Linked DNA regions of Homo sapiens. The protein of the gene in region 3 purifies or fractionates together with the protein of the main gene of each other region. This does not show direct contact. Each region holds a gene or a part of one and is shown on either strand. Other genes may lie near its edges.

What was found. Proteins that work in one complex are often made in the same cells at the same time.
Region 1: the proteins of TMEM69 (region 3) and CMTR1 purify together in Homo sapiens (affinity purification with mass spectrometry; one large-scale study listed by BioGRID and IntAct). This does not show direct contact.
Region 2: the proteins of TMEM69 (region 3) and IMPACT purify together in Homo sapiens (affinity purification with mass spectrometry; one large-scale study listed by BioGRID and IntAct). This does not show direct contact.
Region 4: the proteins of TMEM69 (region 3) and RTF2 purify together in Homo sapiens (affinity purification with mass spectrometry; one large-scale study listed by BioGRID and IntAct). This does not show direct contact.

What each region holds. Positions count from the first base shown.
Region 1 is NC_000006.12:37,431,884-37,436,020, forward strand, and holds the start of CMTR1 (cap-specific mRNA (nucleoside-2'-O-)-methyltransferase 1), read left to right. Parts: upstream 1-1,337; 5' UTR 1,338-1,494; intron 1,495-3,740; 5' UTR 3,741-3,746; coding exon 3,747-3,879; intron 3,880-4,137. UniProt on the Homo sapiens protein: S-adenosyl-L-methionine-dependent methyltransferase that mediates mRNA cap1 2'-O-ribose methylation to the 5'-cap structure of mRNAs.
Region 2 is NC_000018.10:24,450,670-24,454,031, reverse strand, and holds the end of IMPACT (protein IMPACT), read right to left. Parts: intron 3,254-3,362; coding exon 3,185-3,253; 3' UTR 501-3,184; downstream 1-500. UniProt on the Homo sapiens protein: Translational regulator that ensures constant high levels of translation upon a variety of stress conditions, such as amino acid starvation, UV-C irradiation, proteasome inhibitor treatment and glucose deprivation.
Region 3 is NC_000001.11:45,690,118-45,695,704, reverse strand, and holds the end of TMEM69 (transmembrane protein 69), read right to left. Parts: intron 4,732-5,587; 5' UTR 4,637-4,731; coding exon 4,595-4,636; intron 2,502-4,594; coding exon 1,800-2,501; 3' UTR 1,288-1,799; downstream 1-1,287.
Region 4 is NC_000020.11:56,475,127-56,478,626, forward strand, and holds part of RTF2 (replication termination factor 2), read left to right. Parts: intron 1-516; exon of another isoform or gene 517-619; intron 620-1,858; coding exon 1,859-1,998; intron 1,999-3,500. UniProt on the Homo sapiens protein: Replication termination factor which is a component of the elongating replisome. Required for ATR pathway signaling upon DNA damage and has a positive activity during DNA replication.

The sequences.
Region 1 (4,137 bases), on a different chromosome or scaffold from region 3:
CTGCTCACTGCAACCTCTGCTTCCCAGGTTCAAGCGATTTTCCTGACTTACCCTACTGAGTAGCTGGGACTATAGGTGCGCACCACCACACCCAGCTACTTTTTTTGTATCTTCAGTAGAGACGGGATTTCACCATGTTGGCCAGGCTGGTCTCGAACTCCTGACCTCAGGTGATCCATCCGCCTCAGCCTCCCCACGTGCTGGGATTACAGGTGTGAGCCACCGCGCCCGGCGGAGACACGGCATATTTGATAAACTGAGAAGAGTCAGCATGGGGAGAACTAAGGGATAGCAGTACAAGGCATACCTGAAGAAGGGGTCATGCTGGAGGGTCTCAGAGGCCATTTTAAGGACATTAGCTTTATTCTAAGAGCAATGGGACATCATTGATGGATTTTAATCATTGTTGGGTTGTGACAGGATCAGGTTTAATTAATCAATTTTAAATTCCCTTCTTTTCACAGGTGTTGAAAATTATAAAAATCACTTTGGTTTTGTGAAGAACGCATTAGAGGGATCACAACTGGAGACAGTCACGGGAGTTTGGAGTTACTGGAGAAATTCTGCCGAGAGGGGGTAAGTGCATGAATTGTGGCAATGGGGATGGGGGTGAATGGATGGATTTGAAAGACAATTAGGAGGTAAGCGCAATTAAGTGTATGAGAAACTTTGGGGTATGAAGAAGAGGGAGATTCCTCAGATTTCTAGCTGGACCAACAGGATGGATGGCAGCGCCCTTCACCAGGAAAAAAGTGAGCTGATGGAAGAACATAAGGTGAAATTTGAATTCATGGGGTTTGAGGTGACTGAGTGAGGATGTCCAACAGACGTTTGGCCATATTGGCCTGAAAATCAGAAGAGAGGTTTGAGATGGAGAGCCAACTGTGCCCATATGGTAAGATGCTACAGGCGGCATTCCTTCTGTCCTCCCGTCCTTCGTTCAAAATCTGTTGAGATGTCCCATAGGCTGGATGTTGGGGATACAGCAGGGAACAAGAACACTGCGTTCGCTCAACCAGTTTACCATCTACCTCTCTGAACTTGTTCTTAGTCTGTAAAATGAAGATAATGATAAGATTAAGTAAGATGAGGTCGTGTGAGGGCACCTAGCACTTACAATTTTTGTATTGGTTTCTCTTCCTCAGAGCCAAAGGAGGAGATAGTTACTTTTGCTTTTGCAGCCTTTTCCGGGCGGCTTTTCCGCGCAGGCGCCCCTGGACCTCCCAGGTTGAGAGGTGGAGCGGGCCAAACCTCAGCTGCCTTTCCCGGGGCCGGGACCCGGCCGGGGGAGGACCGAGGCGCGGCGCTGTCCGTGACGTCATCAGGCTGCGCTGCCCGCAGTACTGGACCCGAGCGCGACGGTGCGGCTGGCGGACCCGGGCTGGCTTGTGGGGAAACGAAACTGAGGGAGGAGGCGGCGGCTCTGGCAGCGGCGGCGACAGTGTCGGCCTGACCCCCCCTCCGCTCCCCGGCAGCTCGCTCTCTCCCCTCAGCGTGAGTGCCGACGCGCGGCCCGGGGGGAGCAAGCGGGCGGGCGCGCGGGCTCAGCATCCTTCTCCCCTCCACCGCCGCCTGGGCCCCCCGCCCGCGGTTATGGGTCTCCTCGCCTTCTGGCCCCTTATGTCTTCCCTCCTCCTCCCACCCCCAACGCCGGCTCCCTGGAGCCCGAGCTGCCGCTGACACACGTCTCTGCGCACACATTCACACGCTCATGTTATCTTCAAATGAAGGGACTGGCCGGGAGACATGGGAGCTTATCTCTTCTCTCTGTGATTAGGGGTGGCAGTGCCAAACCGAGGCCCAGGGAGAGAAGACTGCAGAGGGGATTTGAACCCCTTCTGTGCGGAAGCAGCAGGTAGAACCAGGCCGCTTGCCTTCCGCTTAGAAGTTCCCTGCCAGAGCATTCTGCTGGCATGTGTGGGTCACTTGAGCAGGGCACTGGTTAGCTGTGTGGCCTTCACCTCTGTGGCCGCAGTCTTTTCCCGTGGAAGATGATAGGGTTGGATGAGATGATTTGGAAGGCCCAAATCTAAGGTGATGTGGTTTGGGGAGGAGCATCCGCCTCTCCTGCCTTTCACACAGCTGTTCAACAGTCCGCTTTGAGTTTGCTGTACTTCCAGTCTCCCCCCGAGTCACTTAAGAATTAAAAGCTTTTAGCGCTTGCAATGGCTAGAAGCAAGCTCTGTGATGAGCCTTCCTTTATCTCACCCTGGGGGCCTTTTGGGGGTATTTAAGACTACGGCTTAAAGTGAAATGTGGCTTAGCTTGGTCTTGCTTTCTGTTTGCTCAGTGTCTCCGGTTCTTCCCTGGGACAGCCCCTGCCTGTATCTAGTAAGAGGCTGCTTTCTCAGGAAGGTGGCGGTTGTGCATTGGGTTGATTGGCTCTTCCTTGAGTTGGAGAGAACTGAAACATGTGATCCAGGGTTTTACGAGGTTGGGAGCATCAGTGACACTTTTGGGTTTCAATACTTTCTTGCTGTACCTCGCCTTCCCTAAGGATTGTTTCCCAGCTTGTCGCCCACCCTGTATTGAGTCCTCTTTTCTGAGTTCTCTACAGCCAATCAGTTGTGTGTAAGCCACACTGTATTCACTACTTCTCTTGCTTGCTCTTTAACTTGATAATTCGTTAAGATTTCAGGGTTTCATAATCACTTCATTCCATCTTATTTTTTTCTCGTGCTTATCTCTCATGTACCTAACCATGGGGATGGATGATTGATGGTGGCATGGTGCCTGTTTCTTTCTTTTTTGTTTTTTTGAGACGGAGTCTTGCTCTGTCGCCCAGGGTGGAGTGCAGTGGTGTGATCTCGGCTCACTGCAACCTCCGCCTCAGCAATTCAAGCGGTTCTCCTGAGTAGCTGGGACTACAGGCATGTGCCACCACCCGGCTAATTTTTGTGTTTTTTTTACTAGAGATGGGGTTTCACCATGTTGGCCAGGCTGGTCTTGAACTCCTGACCTCAGGTGATCCGCCCACCTCTTTCTCCCAAAGTGCTGGGATTACAGGCGTGAGCCACCGCGCCCAGCTGGTTTCCACTCTTTTTTGTGGAGGTGGATTTCTGTCCTTAAAATTGTTGTTTTCGTAACTGAGTTCTGTGGTATAGCTACCTCCAGTCCCAATAACTTTCCCGCTCTTGTGTTTCCTCGGTCTTAAGTCATTTCACTGCTTCCATTCCCTACTCTGCTTAAAAACTTTCCCAATTCTTTCATGTTTTCAAACATTATGAAGTAAACCAAAACCAGTATTTTTATGATATTATGTAATTTCTTAATTGTTTTGGTAAAATAATGCTGATGAAACAGTCATTCTGGGATGGTCCCTTCACCTTGGGAATATTGGTTAATATTTATTCGGTTTTATAGTTCATTTTCAGTGTACATTGTCATGCATGGCCAATATTGCATCAAAAGTGTAGAATAACTACAGGTACCAAGGCTTTATCCCCCAGTGGCTTGTGGAGTTGATCCATGACTTTCTGTTATCTGACACCAGTGGCCCAGGGCTCTCTCAGTCTGTGAGCACCACATTTTCCAGTAAAACAGCTATTATTGAAAACCAACACTTGTCTAGCATCCTTCCTAGACCTCATTCTGAGGAAGAGGCTATTCAAGTGCTGGCACTGGAAGATGTGTAGAATTGCCAAATCTCATCCCATTGATGATTTACACTTTGGAATCCCTGCTGTGATCCCAGTGGCTGTGACCCAAGGGCAGCTGACTGACTGGATTTATGGTTACAGTTAACGATGAAGAGGAGAACTGACCCAGAATGCACTGCCCCCATCAAGAAACAGAAAAAAAGAGTTGCAGAGCTTGCCCTGAGCCTCAGCTCCACGTCCGATGATGAACCTCCCTCCTCTGTCAGTCATGGAGCAAAAGGTACGTGTGCTTGTGTGGTCTGAGGCCACTGGCCATCTGGTTATTTGAACACACAGTGTCTAATCTAGGTGGAGCAGACTATAGTCCACTGCCCCTTGGTCCCTTGAGGAAAATTAGGAATACTCTACAGAGAGATGTTGGCTATAGACTCTTTTCCCTTCTGCCATTCTCCTACTAAGAGTGGGGAAACTTGTTTTAAATAAAAAATGGTAATTTTTCCAGAAGTTGCTTTCTGTTGGTTGTCCTTCAGTAGGTGGC
Region 2 (3,362 bases), on a different chromosome or scaffold from region 3:
TTGTATTTTTAGTAGAGACAGGTTTGACCATGTTGGTCAGGCTGGTCTCAACCTCCTGACCTCAAGTGATCCGCCTGCCTCAGCCACCCAAAATGCTGGGATTACAGACGTGAGACACTGTGCCTGGCCAAAAAGTTTACTTTTTTAAAAAGGATCTTGGGAGTTATCAAGCAAACTGCCTATTTTTTCCCATCTTTGGCTGGTATTAAATATTCCAACACAATATTAATGGAGCAATCACTGATAACACTTTCCTGGATGACAATCTGACTCAACTAATCAAAAGCTATTAGAATGTACAAACCTTGACCAAGAAATTCGATATCTAGGAGCTTTTCCTAAAGAAATAATCAAAGATACATACAAAAATCTGCAAATGATGTAGGTTTTCACAGTTGTTTATAACAGTGAAAAGTTGAAAAAAACTTAAAAATTGGAAATAAGTGGAGGACTAGTTAGTATAATACTGAGAAGACAGAATACAATGCAGTCATAAGACATTTAAGCCATAGAAGAATATTTATTGACATGGAAAATGTTAACAATATACTTCTATATGAAATATGTAGGCTACAAAACAGTATATACAGTTTAATACCATTTTTATGGAAAGAAAAATAACCATATATACAAAATCATGCATAAGAAAAAAATAATATAAGGATGTACATACCAAATATTAATAATAATGGCTATCTCTGGATAGTGGAATCAGAGGGATTATGTAATTTTCCCGATAAATTTTCCTGTCCTCCAAACAGCATCCGCTTCATACTATTATTTCTTGGTTGTAATTAGTTTGATATAATTCTCTTCAGAAAGGCTCTGTTTCACTATATATACCTCAAAGCATACTTTTGATGCAGCTTCTGCAATTCCCATCTAAAAAGTAGATAACACTTGCTCTTATATTCTGGCATATGAAGACTATTTGTAATTAACACACTATAAAATATGTCAAAGCAGGCCAGGCATGGTGGCTCACACCTGTAATTCCAAAACCTTGGCAGGAAGATCGATTGAGGCCAGGAGCTCAAGACGAGCCTGGGCAACATAGAAAGACCCTATCTTTACAAAAAAAACTTTAAAAATTAGCCAGGTGTAATAGCACATGCCTGTCTGTAATCCCAGCTACTTGGCAGGCTGGAAGGTCAAGGCTGCAGTGAGCCATGATCATGCCACTGCACTCCAGCCTAGGTGACAGAGCAAGAACTCATCTCTAAAAAAAAATTTTTAAATAAAGCAAAATATGCCACAGCATAGATCTGATTGTAGAAAATTATTATATGGAGAACTGAAAAATCTCCTAATCAAGACAAAAATTTTAAATAGAGGAAAAAAATACTATCTATCATTAGTTCAAGTTTCCATTAAGAGTAGAGTGTGAAGTAGCTCCAAGTTCAGAGCTGGAGAATTTTGCATCTCTCCCTCTTACCAGCCAATTGACTTTAGGTAAAGAATACTAGAGTTTTTTAGTTAGTAAAATATAGTTAATAATTCTGTATAAAGGAGCAAAAGTAAGTTTCTCATTGTTTCCTATCTCCCTTCATAGGTTTGACATGTTGAAATTGTGAAATTATTTAATGTTAATAGTTTTTAACTTCTTTAATTATGTAAAATAATTAATTTTTAAATTATTTTAACAGTTAAAACACAAAGCATACTTTTCATGGAACCAAGTGTTCCAAACACAAAAAGGTCATTCTCTGATGGCTCCTGATAACATACAACATAAAATATAGTTATAACAAATATAATTTAGAATTTATATTTCAGAATCCATCCTGGTGTAAAGCTATTTACTATAACCTTACTAAAAATACCAACGGTAAGGATGTTGGATCTTTTAAAGGTAAAACATCAGAGAAAAGAGAAAAAGACCTGTTTGTCCAATTCTCTGTGCTTTCCATGCTCTAGCACCATCCCAAAGTTGCCTCCTAACTTCTGTTCCCTCCCTGGGAAGGGAAGTCCAGGCAAATCTGTGATCAGTTAATAACTTTTAACAATTGTTTGCCATTACATCTGAAAGTGAACAGTTAATCACTTATTGTTATATCTCAAAGGTAAATTTCACTATCTAAATGCCTAGAGGTAACTGGAAGATGAAAGATACATAAAGGTTTGATGAATAGAGGGGAAAAAATGGGGGGGAGGGTTGTTTCTGTTTTTCCAATGAAAAGGTTTGCTCCTTCTCTCTGCAAAATCTTGGAACTGAGAAAGCCGTCTGGAGTGCAGATGGAAAGCATGCATCAAATTGATGTAACTACACAACATACTCCTGCCCTACACCAGGTTCATTCTGCCACCTCTATCCCACTCTACGAATGTCCCATTTGCCACAGCCTAACTTCTATCATAGTTCTAATTCCTCAGTGAAGATCACAAGAAAGGTACTTCCAGGTTGTTAAAAGAAACGAGAATGTTACACCAACACATTTCTGGGGTGGAAGGAGACTACTGACACTCCATATTTATTGCTTACATTACAAGAATTAAACAAAAAAAGCAGACTAGAAAATCACTTTCTGTAATTTCACAATCACCAATTTGCAACAGAAACTGAAGCATAATATTTATGCTAACAAATATGTTGGATGAATTATCACCTCAGCACATAACTGCAGATGGATACTCCTGGATTTTCACTTAATCCATTACTCAATGATGAACACTATAAAATGAAAGGTGACATACTTATGAACTAAAATCACAAGAAGAAACTCTCCAAGATCAATCTTAAATGAGCTCCTATTCCAATAAGCCATAAAGAGCAGTAAAAGGCAATATTCATTTAACAGTACAAGAATCTCGATGACAAGAAATCAGGTATTTATATTCCTCTAGAGACATTTCTTCTCCACCTAACAAAGGCACTTGACATGTACTGAAATGGACAGTTAATTCAGGTACTGCCCTGGGCAACTGTTACCTTGCTAAAATTAGATGAAGTGGTGATTAAGTTCAAATTAGTTCTCCCAAATAAGCCTGAAACACACATGAATAGATCATAAGTTCTCTATTTTTGGCAGATGATATAACCAAGAAGAAAAGCTAATGTTGGTATCCATGCTGAACTGGCTGACTTAAGCAGTCAAGGATACTCTCTCTGCACAATATATTCCTTGATGACTATGGAATGTATATATAATTATAGGCAAATTAACCTTTCCTATAGTTTCAGGTATTAATGTTCATTCCTCTTCTTGTCTTTTCTTACTTTTTTGTTCTTTCCCAAAGCCTTAGATGACTCCTCCTGAAAAAGACACAAATCAGTGCAGCATCTCTCCATTTACATAAAGATGAAATCTTCAATCTAATCACTTAGAATATATTTACACATATATATTCCACATATATTCATA
Region 3 (5,587 bases):
AGAGTGAAACTCCATCTAAAAAAAAAAAAAATTCCAGGTTATACTATATCCTGATCTATATCCTTAGACCATTTTTAATCCTTAGACCATTTTTAATGTTTTTCCTTTTTGGTGAGACTAGGAATTTCAGAAAACTAGGTTTTCTGTTAATTCTTTTTTTCTCCACCTTAAGTAGAGTGATTAGAGACTACGTTTTCAAGTGAAAATCTAAGGTGTTGCTTTTGCTGTTTTAAGAAAGCTTCTGCACTGGGTGCAGTGGCTCACGCCTGCAATCCTAACACTTTGGGAGCCTAGGCAGGAGGATTGCTTGAGCTCAGTTCAAGACCAGCCTGGGCAACATAGGGAGACCCTGTCTCTACAAAAAATTAAAAAATTAGCTTGGCATAGTGGTGCACAACTGTAGTCCCAGCTACTCAGGAGGCTGAGGTGGGAGAATTGCTTGAGCCCAGGAGGTCGAGGCTGCAGTGAGCCATGACCACACCACTACACTCTGGCCTGAGCAAGAGTGAGACCCTGCGTTTAAACAAAACAAAACAAAAACAAAAACACACCAAAGCTAAAAGCTTCTCTGTGATTTAAAAGATGTAGAACTAGACCAGCCTGTCCAACATGGTGAAATGCCACCTCTACTAAAAATACACACCAAAAAATTAGTTGGGCATGGTGGCACGTGCCTATAATCCCAGCTACTCTAGAGATGCTGAGGCAGGAGAATCGCTTGAACTCGGGAGGTGGAGGTTGCGGTGAGCCAAGATCGTGCCACTGCACTCCAGCCTAGGCGACAGAATGAAACTCCATCTCAAAAAAAAAGATGTAGAACTAGATAGGCCTGCTCATTAGAATATCAAGATGGCTCCAGCTTGACTTTTCTTTCCTAATTTATATGTACTAGTGGCTTTATTTTAAATAGTTTCCTTTGAAAATAATCATTTTGACCAGCTATTATGTGTTTGGTGGTAAGGGACAAGTTGTTATCTGTACCATGCCAAATATCCTAATAAAAACTGGAAAACATGTCCAACTTACCTTTGAATGTGGCTTTCCCTCATGACACTGCTCCCTACTGACTTTAGAGCCATAGATCCTTTTAGCTCATATAATTGGGTTATACCATGTGAAATAAGTTTGGACATGCCTTTCCCAGTGGTAACTCCTGTGAAAACTCAATGGAACTACCTTTTCTTTTCAGATACTCACAGATACGAGGTTTTCCGCTTGAAGTGGGAGAATATGTGCATTCTTTTCAATGATCACAAGACTCTAACAAAGGGGATTTTTAATCTTTAATTTTCAAGATGGTTAAAATATTGAAATGTTTAAGTGGATAACTATATTATTCATAAAATGACTGAGTGAAAACTAATATACTATGAGATGAAAAGTACTTGTCAGGGATTTTCAAGCTTTTGCTCAAGTAATTACCATGAAGTAACAATTTCTAGAAATGAAGAACAATCTGTGAAGATAAATTACCATTGGTGTGGGGAAAAAAAGCCAAACAGAAGTAGAAAAAGGTGTAGCTGGCATACAAATGTTATCTACAGTGTATTTATATATATATATTTTTAAAACTTTTAACTAAAAAGTAAACTTTAATGTCGAAAATGCAAACTTGGGGAAGACAGAAAAGATCACACACAAGGCTGTCACTTCACACGTGGAAGGTTGCACAGCGGCCGGGCAGAGGCGCTTGTCACACTTCCCAGATGGTCAGGCGGCCAGGCAGAGGCGCTCCTCACTTCCCAGACGGGGCAGCAGCTGGGCAGAGGTGCTCCTCACTTCCCAGACTTTTATATTTTTTATACTTGACCAGGTCTCTTATGTCCTTTTTCTGGAAAACTACTTTTAACTACTAAAGTGATTATAAATGAAAAAGTGGCCAATAAAGTGACTACTATCCTCAGGGCTTTAAACCAGTTGGGATAATGTGGTAAGAGAAAAAGTTCAAGGTGGAATGCTACTCCCATACCCATTATTACTGTGACTATGGCTTCACTAAGTCTTTCAGAAATAAGGAAGGCAAACCATGAAAAGAAAAGAGGAGCTGCACTGCTAGCTAAATTAAGGTAGTCTGGTTTGGCTGGACTACCTTCTGGTAGAGCAAAACCCCATCTGATCCCACCCAAGAAAGATAGGAAACTGGCTCCATAAGCCATCTGAGTAAAAGCTAATATGGGAATATAAGTTTTTGTCATCAGCATGACCAGTGGTGGAGCAACGAAGGGGATTAGTCCTGCCAGAGTTACACATAATGCTGGCTTTGGGCTGTCAGTTAGGTAAGTGATGGTGCTTGAGGGTCTGGCTAGAAGTGCTTGCTTCTGCTGCTTTTTAAAGCTGCAGGGGGATGTATGATAGCACTGTGTCTTGCTCATATACGCTGGAAATGATGAGGAAAGCCAAGGCCTTGGACATGGGGAAAAGTTTTGCTGGAGAGACATCTTGAGAGAAAGTATATCTGTTCTGCTGGTTCTTAGTCCCACTGGGAAAGAGTACTTCAGTATCTACAAAGAAAATAGAACCAAAAGACAAAATTAAAAATATATATATGTATCATCAGATTTTAGTCAATCCCAGTATGAAATAATGGGGATTGTTTGAAAGGAGCAAACAAAAAAGATCTGCTTTCCATTACCACATCAAACTATACAGAAAGGATGAACTAATAACTCTGAAGTGATATTATTGCTGGTAAGAGTATTAAATGGCTATACAATGTACAAAAGAAACCACTGAACACAAACTAGTGATATATTTCAACCTACCACTTAATCTTATTCCATGAGAAAAATATCTGAAAGAGGAGCAGGTAAAGACTAGATCTTCAGAATTTGGCCTTCTAAACTGCCTCTTTTATTTATAAATAGCAAAAGCAGCAGCACTAATTACCGTGGGAATGCTGTTTTTATATGGAGAAAATAAATCTACCTTCCAACTTAGTTTTATGAACACCACATACTTTTCACAGTTCCACACCTTTGTGTATGCTCTGCCTAGAATTCTAGCTCTTACTACTTTCCTATCTAGGAAACTTACCTCAACATTCAAAATTCAACTTAAAGCTTTCCTTTACCCTTCTACGGTCTGATTTAATGCTCCTATAGTAAGCACCCTGTGCACACTTCCATCATAATTCTTCTCACAGTGAATTAAAATTGTGTGTTTACTTGTCTTTGTCTCAGTAGACTTGAGAGCCAGGACCGTATTTTTTTCCTTGCCTTAAAATCCCCACTGCCTTTCATTGTACACGGGCAAAGTAATAACCTTTCCTGCTGATTCTGTGTTTTAGTGACCAGACTTCAACTAAAAAGTGTTGCATTAAAGAAAAAATTGAAGTTATTGAAGAATCTCAGTGATTACTCAAACATGCTAGGAATGGTTCCATCTTGGAACCATTTCCCTGTTTCCATATTTACTGCTCTTCCCTCAGTTACCTACTTCCGATCCCCTGCCATTTGTAAGTCCAATCCTACGTCTTGACACTACCTATTGCCCTTCCCTGCTTTATAGTTCTCCACAGCATTTACCAGTTGATGTATTAATTTTTATTTTTATTTTTTTGAGACCGAGTTTTGCTCTATCACCCAGGCTGGAGTGCAGTGGTACAATCTCTGCTCACTGCAACCTCTGCCTCCCAGGTTCAAGCGATTCTCTGCCTCAGCCTCCTGAGTAGCTGGGATTACAGGCGTCCGCCACCATGCCCAGCTAATTTTTGTATTTTTAGTAGAGACAGGGTTTCACCATGTTGTCCAGGCTGGTCTCGAACTCCTGACCTCACGTGATCTGCCCGCCTTGGCATCCCAAAGTTTTGGGATTACAGGAGTGAGTGACCGTGCCTGGCCTTATTTTTTTTAATTTTTACTTTTTGAGATGAATTATTCCTCTGTCACCCAAGCCAGAGTGCAGTGGCACAATCTCGGCTCACTGCAACCTTTGCTTCCTGGGTTCAAGTGATTCTTCTGCCTCAGCCCCCCAGGTAGCTGGGACTACGGGCGCCTACCACCATGCTGAGCTAATTTTTGTATTTTTCCGTGGAGACAAGGGTTTTACCATGTTGGCCAGGCAGGTACTGAACTCCTGACCTCAAGTGATCCACCTGCCTCAACTCCCAAAGTGCTGGGATTTCAGCCGTAAGCCACGGCACCTAGCCAATTTTTTTTTTTTTTAAACATCGTCTTGCTGTGTCACCCAGGCTGCAGTGCAGTGGCATGATCTCAGCTCACTGCAGCCTCAACCTCCTGGGCTCAAGCGATCCTCCTCTCTCAGCCTCCCAGGTAGCTGGGGCTATAGGCGTGTGACCCCATGCCCAGCTAATTTTTTGTAGAGATGGGGTTTTGCCATGTGCCCAGACTGGTCTTGAACTCCTTGAGCTCAAGTGATCCCACCCACCTCGGCCTGCCAAATTGCTGGGACTACAGGCGTGAGCCACTGCACCCAGCCTGATATAATAAACATTTTACTTACTTGTATTTTACTTAACTCTTCCCTCCATCACCTGAATATACAAGGGTAAGGATTTTTGTCTTTTTCACTGCTACTGACCTAGCCCAAGCAATATTTGGCAAATAGTGCTCAAATATCTGCTGAACAAACCAACCTTTGAAGATGCTTGAGAAAACTTCTGGATGAAGCGAAGCATACTGGCCCCTATTGAAAGTCTTGTTCAGGAAGATGCCAGGTAGTTCTGATTAACATGTTACAGCTAAGCAGAGGCACTGAATCAGGGGCATGTTTCTGTGTATAACACAAGGTGTCACTTAATTTTCCTCATTTTATACATTAATTTTTAAATAGTAGTAATTCATGAATATAACACTTTCCTTTGAAAAGAATCATTAATGTTTTCAAACTGTCGGTAACACAGTAACAAAATAGATCCTTTTAGTATCTGAACTGTTCTTTTAGCTTTGGCTGTCTAGTGTAATAGAAAGAGTAATGCACATAGAGATTTTACAGATACTTCCACCATTTCCTAGCTGTGTGACACTGGGCAAATTGCTTGAGTACTGGTTTTCTCATCTTTAAAATGAAGGGTCTTCTAAGTGGTGTTTTTGTGAAATTAAAAAAAAAACCAAAACAAAACTGGAAGGTCATAGCTTCTGTTTCCTTTTTTCCTCCTATTTTGGGGCTTAAGAGTTCACAACTCAAAATAACGATAGTACCAACCAATATAATTTAGGTTTTTTTAATTTGTTTGTTTGTTTTGAGACAAGAGTCTTGCTGTGTCGCCCAGGCTGGAGTGCAGTGGCGCGATCTTGGCTCACTGCATCATCTGCCTACCGGGTTCAAGCAATTCTTGTGCCTCAGCCTCCCAAGTAGCTGGGATTACAAGCTCCTGCCACCATGTCTGGCCAATTTTTGTATTTTCAGGAGAGATGGGGTTTCGCCATGTTGGCCAGGCTGGTCCTGAACTCCTGACCTCAGGTGATCCAACTGCCTAGGCCTCCCAAAGTGTTGGGATTACAGGCATGAGCCACCGCGCCCGGTGAGCATTAACTCATTTAATGCTCAAAATAACCTCATTAACTTAGTACTGAGAGAGAATAGCCTGTTGGAGTGCAGACTTTGGTGTCAAACTTGGTTGGAATCC
Region 4 (3,500 bases), on a different chromosome or scaffold from region 3:
TCACGTGGCTACCATCTGGTGATTAGAGGTTCTGATTGGCAGTTAAAGTTCTTTCATAAAAGTTGAAAAAACAAGTTTTTTTAATAAGGGAAATTTCTTGAGAGGACACAACTTTTTAAATATGGTCAGTGGGGAAAAAAACTTGGAAAGGTAATGAAGAATTTGAGAACCATCAGGCTAGTCAAACCCTTCATCTCACTGTAAATGACTCACTTGAGGCCCCATGGCTAGCGAAGTACTTAAACCAGAACCAGATCCCCTAACTCCCAGTCTAAGGCTCTAGGTTTTGCCTTCTTTTTCTTTCTTTCTTTCGTATTATTAGGCTTTTTGTTCAAATGCTTGGGGTTGATTATAGGATATGTTCATTTCAGGCAAATTCATAATTCTGAAATGTAGCTAATGATAGTGCTCTAGAAATTATTCTGATTTTAGTGGTCTTTTACCTTGTGGAAGAGAATTTATTCCTGAAAAACCTGTGGTAGTATGAATCATCTTACATCAAAAATGTGATAAACGATTCTTTAGTAGTTCATAATGCTATGATTGGGTTTCCATGTGCACATGTAAGATGTGCCTCTCTCAAGCCTTGTTGTGACATCAGCACATTACCCATCTGATGAGAAAAAAAAACAGTTATTGAAATTAATTCATACAGTTCTATACTTAAAATACTTGTAATATTCAGTTTTATGTGGTTGAATATTTAATGGAAAAAAACTCCAAGAAATTAGAACAGTAAAGAAAAAAAGCATACAAATAAAACAATGCTAATACATAAGATTGTCATTACCGTCAATTGATAGTCCACAAATACTCGGAGCAGAGAACTCAGTGAGACGTGCTCATTCTCGACCAGGAAGCTGATCGTATGAATGGTGATTTGCCTTTCAAGACACTCACCTGCTCTCTAGAGTATTGAAGTCAAAATGGTCTCATTAAATATGAAGAAATGCCTCGAATGCAAAAGTAGAGTTACTGTATCAAATTCCTTATAAAGTTGGGAATTCTTGAAAACCTGAATAGCTGTGTCTTGGAGTGTGACAGTATTTTCTGGCTAATATTCTGCCTTAGCTCGTTAGACCGTGGCCTCAGATTTTACTGTCTATTCAATGATTTTATATATATATTTTTTTGTTTTTGCTTTTTTCAACGATTAAATAAATGTAGATAGTCAGTAACATGAAGCAGCCTCAGAGAGGATTCATCACAGGGAGAAAGCATTCCCTTCTGGGTGGAACTCATGCAGAGCTTTCTGTTAGTGGAGTAATTTTTTATGTAAGAGGGTACTTTTCCTTAAGTTAAAAAGATGTGGATAGTAGAAATAACTGATTTACTTGCTAGTCAGTGAATTGAAAAAAATCTTGTTTTCTGTTTTCTTTTTTTTTTTTTTGAGACGGAGTTTTGCTCTTGTTGTCCAGGCTGGAGTGCAGTGGCACGATCTCAGCTCACTGCAACCTCCTCCTCCCGGGTTCAAGCGATTCTCCTGCCTCAGCCTCCCGAGTAGCTGGGATTACAGGCATGTTCCACCACACCCAGCTAATTTTGTATTTTTAGTAGAGACGGGGTTTCTCCATGTTGGTCAGGCTGGTCTTGAACTCCTGACCTCAGGTGATCCGCCTGCCTCGGCCTCCCAAAGTGCTGGGATTACAGGCATGAGCCACCACACCCGGCCTTGTTTTCTGTTTTCTATATATGGTTTAATATTATATCCATGTTTCTTATGGACCAGAGGAAAGTAACTGTGAGGGAGAGGTTTTGATGGGAAGGGCTGGAATAACAATTTGTTGACTTACGTGGTTAAGGCAAAGGATGATCTGTTTATCAAATGAATTGTTAAAATATTAATGGTTTTTCCCAGAATGTGACAGAGCTGAAGCTTTCTGATAATCCTGCCTGGGAAGGGGATAAAGGAAACACTAAAGGTGACAAGCACGATGACCTCCAGCGGGCGCGTTTCATCTGCCCCGTTGTGGGCCTGGAGATGAACGGCCGACACAGGTTAGTGACGGACCTGGGACAGATGATGTGGGAGGCTGGAGGAATACTGCCGGTTTTGGTGGCAGTGGTGCCGGAGCTTAGCAGTCATGTGGCTTGCTTTCTGGTGTCCTTGGGTTTGGTGGCGCCTTGGAGGAAATGGTGCTTGGTCATGAGCACGTTCATTTCCGTCAGCCATTGCTACGGGACTTCCAGCGAGATCCAGCCTGGTCTGCGGCCTTCCGTTCTTGAGGTGGGGAAACAAAACCTGAAGTGAAGTGGGATTCTGAAAAGTTCTCATGTGACGCTTATGAAACCTGAGTTTAGTTCTTAGATCATCTTTTCCTGTGGGACAGAAAGCAAAGAGCAAATGTTTCCTATCAAGCAAATCCCATTTCCTTCCTGTTACTAATTTTTAATTTTTATTATGTTTTATAGTTTTATTTTTATCCTTTTTTTTTAAGTAGAAATAAGGTCTCACTTTGTTGCCCAGGCTGGTCTTGAATTCCTGGCCTCAAGCGATCCTCCTGCCTCAGCATCCCAAAGTGCTGGGATTGTAGGCGTAAGCCACCACGCCCGGCCACTAATTTTTATTTTTGTAGAGATAGGGTCTCCCTATGTTGCCCAGGCTGGATTCAAATTCCTGGCCTTTAACGATCCTCCCAAAGCGCTGGGATAACATGTGGGAGCCACTGCACCTGATTACAAATGCCAAAAGTTATGCAGTAACAGGCAGAGTTATAGAACCTGTGGTTAATCAGTCAACCAAAGGCTCAAAAACATGGTAATTTGCCTTGAATTTGTAGCTAACAGATTCTCTGGCTGTAGCACTGGGAATCTTATGGTTGAGATGTGTGTAGCAAATGTAAGCAACCTGTATATTTTCCTCTTTAAAAAATACGGACGGTTGAATGGGTTAGTACATGCTTTTTCATAGGATGTCTCACTAAGCAAAAGCGTTAAGCCCTTTCCCCCACTTTTGAGAAGTACAGTCATACCTCGGAGATATTGTGGGTTCTATTCCAGACTACCACAATAAAACAAATATTACTGGAAAGCAAGTCACACAAAATTTTGGTTTCTTAGTACATATAAAAGTTGCCTTTAGCAGCTCACAGTGGCTCCCACCTATAATCCCAGCACTTTGGGAGGCCGAGACAGGAGGATTGCTAGAGGCTAGGAGTTAGAGACCAGCCTGGGTAACATAGTGAGACCCTGTCTTTACGAAACAAAATTTTTTTTTAATTAGCCAGCCATGGTGGCATGTACCTATAGACCTCGCTACTTGGGAGGCTGAGGCAGGAGGATTGCTTGAGCCCAGGAATTCAAGGCTGCAGTGAGGTATGATCATGCCACTGCAGAGCCTGGGTGACAGAGTGGGACCCTGTCTCAAAAAAGAAAGTTATGTTTATACTATAGTCTAGTCTTTTAAGTGTGCAATAGCATTATGTCTAAAAACAAAGTACCTATCTTAATTAAAAATTATTGCTAAAGAATGCTAGCAATCACCTGAACCTTCAGCGAGT